Regions from separate parts of the Homo sapiens genome. Here region 2 is reported to be linked to region 1. Evidence: microRNA targets listed by miRTarBase, many of them from high-throughput screens and not tested one by one. Region 1 holds a microRNA gene; the other region holds the end of a gene's coding sequence. Distances are between the middles of the regions.
The links. Region 1 holds the annotated microRNA hsa-miR-125b-2-3p (UCACAAGUCAGGCUCUUGGGAC, at 2,315-2,336, opposite strand). A microRNA usually pairs through its seed, bases 2 to 8, with sites in the 3' UTR of a target mRNA and lowers its output. Matches are read on the target gene's strand: a 7mer-m8 pairs with bases 2 to 8, a 7mer-A1 pairs with bases 2 to 7 and ends in A, and an 8mer does both.

Region 2: miRTarBase lists DIP2A as a target of hsa-miR-125b-2-3p. The part of its 3' UTR that is shown has no 7-base or 8-base seed match.

Annotation. Positions count from the first base shown.
Region 1 is chr21:16,589,474-16,592,625 of GRCh38, reverse strand. It overlaps MIR125B2 (microRNA 125b-2), which reads right to left and starts at 2,389; the gene lies at 2,301-2,389. The region is part of intron 6 of MIR99AHG (mir-99a-let-7c cluster host gene); the gene reads right to left.
Region 2 is chr21:46,567,401-46,570,400 of GRCh38, reverse strand. It overlaps DIP2A (disco interacting protein 2 homolog A), which reads right to left. Exons shown (of 38, transcript NM_015151.4): 38 at 386-3,000. The coding sequence ends at 2,779. Among named protein-coding and RNA genes, the nearest start is that of S100B, 36 kb to the left of the region's middle.

The DNA of each region.
Region 1 (3,152 bases):
CACATCGGCAGCAGACAGCCCTTAATATATGCGTCTGGCTCAGGCTGGTCTCCCAACCAGGAAGCCATCGAATTGTTAATATCACTGTTTTTTTTGCATGCAACACACATCATTTTCTCGCTCTTTGTTGTAGATCTCTCCTTTTTATTTTAAGCTTAGTATGATCTGATTTTCCAAATCATATCATAAAGCCCTAAAACAATATTATCCTGTGACAGCTGAGATAGAAATGCAGAAAAAGTGGCATCTGTCTATGCACATACAGCATAAAGTAGCCTACATAAGCAAAGTCACCCACTTAAATCTATATACACCTTTATGAAGTAAAAGAAAAGCTTTGTCAATGACGCTCTTGAAAGACTGTTCATATAGGAGGGTTACATAGAGAAGTTCCAATTGTGCAGGATTATCAGTAAAAAACATTTTATATGTTTATGGTGAAAATGAACAAACATGACTGCATTCTCAATTCAGTTTTGGTATATTTCTTTTATGAGACAGAAGTTAATATATAGTGTGGTTCATGAATATGATAACATTAAAAAATTTTCACGTTTGAATAACCTATATCTGATATCACTATAGCCAATAAACATCTACCCCTTACATTGTTTTGGAACTAACTTGATGGAACCTTTCACAGATATTATTTATGATCATGTTAAAACAGATGTTAGTAAACACATACTTGTATGTGATATTCTTTTTTACAAGAAGTACTTTCAGATCCATTGTGTGAACATTGCTATTAAATGTAATCAAGCTTCTGTGTACATGTAGACACACATACATAGATTTCTTTGTATTAAGAAACTTATGGTTTTAAAAAATACTCAATTCCAATGAGAATGAGGTCAAAAGAAATAAAAGATAAATACTACCAAAGCTCTTTACTGTTTATATTACCTCCTTTCATTTGGAGCTTTAAAACTTATATTTATACATATACATACACACACCTAAAATTTCAGAACTTCTAGATAAATGAAGTAGATGATATAAATAAAGAATCTGAATAGGTACAGTGTGCATACATGCTTAAACATATTCTGCATGCTTTATATAGATGTGTATGTTTATGATATTGTTATAGTAATTTTTAATAACTATGACTAATAGATGATTTGTATTCTGTAATATTTCAAGTAGGTATTATAAGAAATTTTTAAAAAGATGAACAAAGACTCCGTACAGTATTCTAAAATACATTCATAAATTTATTTTAACAATGCAGAAGACACATAATTTATGGCACCCATCTAAGGCAATAGTTAAAAGAATGAAGCCACTTTGTTGCTTCTATTAAGGAAAGTCTGTCATCTCCATTTTGAATCTTGATATTTGTAACATTATTGTAAAATTTTTAAATAGATTTAGCATACTGATTCTATCTCCAAGAAAGACATATCTGATGTGGCAATGGCTATTAAACTTTCAAATATGACATATTACTTATGGTTGGAATAGTTACCTCCGATAAAGCTAAAATTCTTATAAAACTAAAACTATGCAGTTCATATGCAGTTGCTAGTCAAAGCAGTTTGACTTCATAGGTGGCGTTTACTGTTTTATCTCACGTAGGCCCATGATATGTACACAGTAAACTGTAAAAAATTTTAAAAAGACATATTTTCCCAGATTATTGGTGAAACTTTCACTCTTGGACTCTCGTAACAAAATAATTGTTAGAATTGTTAAGACATATAAAGTATGTTGGTTGGATAGAAGACTCAGAAAAGCCCTGGCAATAAATACAAAGTATAAAACAGCATTCTTCTTAAATCGGTAGTAAAATCTAATAGGGTCAATAAAGAAGATTGTAAATCATGTTATTTCTAGGCCTCAAGCATGCTTATAGCTGTATATGACATAGTCTGAGCCATAGTTATATGGAGGCATACAGGATTTATTTAAGTAGCTAATGTATATATTTCAATGCATATGAAAAGTTATAAATATAATCCCCTCTCTTCATTAACTGAAGAGATATCCTCTTATACTAGCCACCTTAAAATGCACCAAAAGAAGCATTTTAAAACACTTATATTTTAATTTTGCTTCTTACACAGGTTTCTTATATTGCTTTTGTATGATCGTTATAATACAAACGCTATTTCAGTGCAACTGTGTAATCACTTTAGAGTACAGTTTCTGACAATAGTATTTTTGGGGATGGGTCATGGTGAAAACGTTGCTGATGATAAAGAAAAGCATTGTTCTTTTCTCCTAGGCAGAATCTATGTATGTTCTTTTGTTCTGGTGGTAACTGCAGACAATCAATAAGGTCCAAAGCTGCTGGTTCCCCTCCGCCTAGGTCCCAAGAGCCTGACTTGTGATGTTACTAAAATACCTCACAAGTTAGGGTCTCAGGGACTAGGAAAAGTCTGGTTTGATGCGGTAGAATTCTTCTTCCAGAAATAAGGATAGCTTAGAAATTACAGTTGGGTTCACTTAGACTTTTACCTCTAAATACTATTTAAAATACTTCAGTAGAAATATATATGATATATAAAAGTTAGGATGAGCTGAGTAATCACGACGACCATTTATAGACTAATTCCAGACCTTAAAATAATGAAGAATATGAGAAACAATGCAGACAATGAACAGTTAAGAGTCATTCCATTAGATCCAAAGAAAGAGACTAAACATGGGTTAAAATCTGCTTCTAGCAGATTTGTACAGCAACACCATAGCCTCTATTACATTAAAGAAGGATTATATGCCAGTTAATGGGACCCTAATTGAAATTTTGCTTCCCATTACACTGCTATACAGCACAACTGGTAAGGTGGGCCCAGGACATATAATACTTTAAATCGGATTTAAATATATACCGTTGCAGTTAAGAACAAAACAAAAACTTTTCTGCATGTCATAATTTAATACCTCTGAAGCTTGATTTTTCTCTTTGAATCTCCAAACTATTCAGACAGCAAATATTTCCACGCATACTCTGTAGTTATTTGAGCAATGCCACTTAATAAACATGTAATTTAAAATGCTGGCAACATCATAAAAAAACCATGATTCTATTTCTTGAATAATTACATTATAAAGCTCAATACTTTTAAAAATACACAACCCCAATCCTGTATATTCACTGAATTTCCTCCGATCTTTTAGCCTTGTTTGTGGTTCGAGAACAGAAT
Region 2 (3,000 bases), 30 Mb from region 1:
AACACGAGGACATATTCAACATGACCAGACACAACACTTATTTGCCTATCAAATTGTTAAAGAGTTATTTTAATCTTGAGCACATGTCCATTGCCAACATTACTTGGCATCTGCAAAGAGGCCTTTTCCATGCTGTCATCCTGCCCTTCTGGAGGGCAGCAGGTACCCAAAGCTTCACACCTGGCATGAACTCTGACCCACTCACTCTACCTATAAGAACTGAGCCCAAGGCAGTAATTGTAATCATGGCAGTGTAAACGTGCATCTGGGCTCACTGCAGTCCTGTTGAAACAACGCTGATGTACGGCAATACAGCAAATACTACATTTACTCATGGCACACTTGTAAAATACAGCCACTGAAACATGTAGAAGAATATATGTAATAGATTTTAAAGTCTATAATTTATTAAGTACAAAAGCAAATTATTTAAAAAAGCACTTGATCCTAATTTTGTAAAAAATTTTTAAAAAGAAAAAATAAATCCCTGAGAGGGTTTATGTTACATACGAATGCTGCTGTTTACTCAGAGGTAGAATTATAAGAAATTTTAATTTTCTTTATACTTTAATGTGCTTTCTAGATTTTATGCTATAAGCATAACTGCTTTTATAGTCAGAAAAAAAGCAAAATAAGATACAACCTATTCGGGGTAATTTAAAGACCCTTTTCACACATTTCAAAATGCAGAATTACAAAGTCAATAACTTTTATTAACATAATGATATAAAAATTTTAGTGTGATATACAGAATTCCCAGAGTAATTCTAAAACATTTTAATGCACTTCTTAAAATCTTAATTTACAAGACACCTTGTCTTACCACCACTGACCTTTCAATACAAAAAGCTGACAATTTTTGTTTGCTATAAAACTACAACATTAAGATTGGAGTTAGGTAGTTTTTTTTTTTTTTTCTTTCCCTTCCCAGCCATTCTATTGTAAGGAATGTCCATTAGACTACTTCCCAAACCTCTGTATGTCAACAATAAGTTACATAGATTCTGTACATACTTACAACAGGATTATTAGAATTCCAGTATGTCACAACATACTTTACCACAGTCCAACACCATGGGGAAACAGGGCTACTATGCACAGTGCTATTTGTAGCCAGACAGGAGTAAAACATGAGAGCTGGCCCAGTTAGCCAGACTCATGTGTGGAGAATTAATAACAGCTTTGTTAGGCACTGATCCAGACTAATTCTGGAAAAACCTGGTTGTTTCTGTGAAGCATGCATGATTCACAAAATTTGCCACCCTCAATACCCCAAAAACCCAACAATTTCGTAACATACTCTTCATTAGCTATATAAAAATAATCTATGTCTTAGATTCGTGCTTGACTTCAAATTCTTAGAAGTAACTAAAGGACTTTACATTCTCTTCTTTGATTTAGGTTCTGTATAATTTTAGATCACTCAGCTTAGTCAAGTTTGAACAAAATAATAAAATGGTTTGGCCAAATTTTATAGGCACACAACTCAAAATGCAAAAAGCAGTGAAGAATGTAACCATCTCCACCTTCAATACGGGGCAATGCTGTTCCCTGCTCCCCTCAACTGTACTGCCGGTACTCACCAAACAGCACTATGGATATGAAAACCTTAGACTTTACCACAATGCTTCCAAATCTGCTGACTTGGAATAAAAATAATAAATCAGTACACTTCCACGAGAAGAATTAATATTGTAGTGTTAGGAAAACTAGCAATTTAACTAAACAGCATCAAGTTACAAACCAGGAAAGTGATTTAAAACTAAATGCTGGCTTATCTTTCTGAAACAAAGCATCTAAATTTGACAGTCCAAAATGGCACTTATTGAGTGTCCGTGACAATACATGCTGACAAGCAGCACACCTCTTTTTTGTTTTTTTAAGACGGCATCTCGTGCTGTCACCCAGGCTGGAGTGCAGTAGCGTGATCTCGGCTCACTGCAAGCTCCGCCTCCCTGGTTCATACCATTCTCCTGCCTCAGCCTCCCAAGTAGCTGGGACTACAGGCGCCCACCACCACACCCGGCTAATTTTTTGTATTTTTAGTAGAGACAGGGTTTCACCATGTTAGCCAGGATGGTCTCGGTCTCCTGACCTCGTGATCTGCTCGCCTCGGCCTCCCAAAGTGCTGGGATTACAGGTGTAAGCCACCGTGGCCAGCCAGCACACCTCTTTCAATAAAGGAACTGGCAGAGGAGGCACTGTGTGTGACCACAGTGCCCTCTGTGAGCAGGGAGGATGGGTCCAGCTTGCTTCCTTTTTCCATCAGCCTCCCTGTGAAACAGAAGTGAGGCAGCTGGTTTGTACTCTGCTATCTTCCCAGAATCAAGTTTCTCCCCGTAAATGGTCTCAAGTTTCTCCCGTAAATTCTATATATGAACTTGTCATTTGAAGTGGGAATAAATAACTGAATTTTAAAAATCAGGAACTATATTTTTAGCCTAAAGAAAGTGCAAACTTGCAGTACAGCAGAGAACAACCTCGGTGCCTGTGATTCCTCACAATGCCCATGCCAGGCCTTTCCTTTCCTTTCCTTGTCTCTCCATCTGTTAAAATACCAGCATCCGTGTTTTTGTAAATGTACTTGGCAGATTCAAAATATTTCTTTAAATAATTCAGGAAGTGCTTTCTAAAAGGAGATGCGGGGATTGTTGAGAGGGATCTGTAAGAGCACAGGAAGGGCGAGTCCCGGTGAGTGAGCTCTGCGGTGTCTTCCCACATCACACCTTGGACTGCTGGGGCTCATTCATCTCCGGCACCTGGGCCGGTGTGCTGCGCTCACATGTTGTAGGCGACATAGATGGGGTCCAGCTGGTCAGCCAGGAAGCCGTCCCGCAGGTGCATGCGCTGCTTCTCACCCCGAGAGTTGATAGGGATCACCCCTGGGTCCACGATGACCACCACTCCCACGACCAGGTAGTGCTCCTCCAGCACCACGTTGGTCACCAGGGCCACCAGGTCCAGGGCATCCTGCTCTAGCCCATCCAGCTCCACCACCAC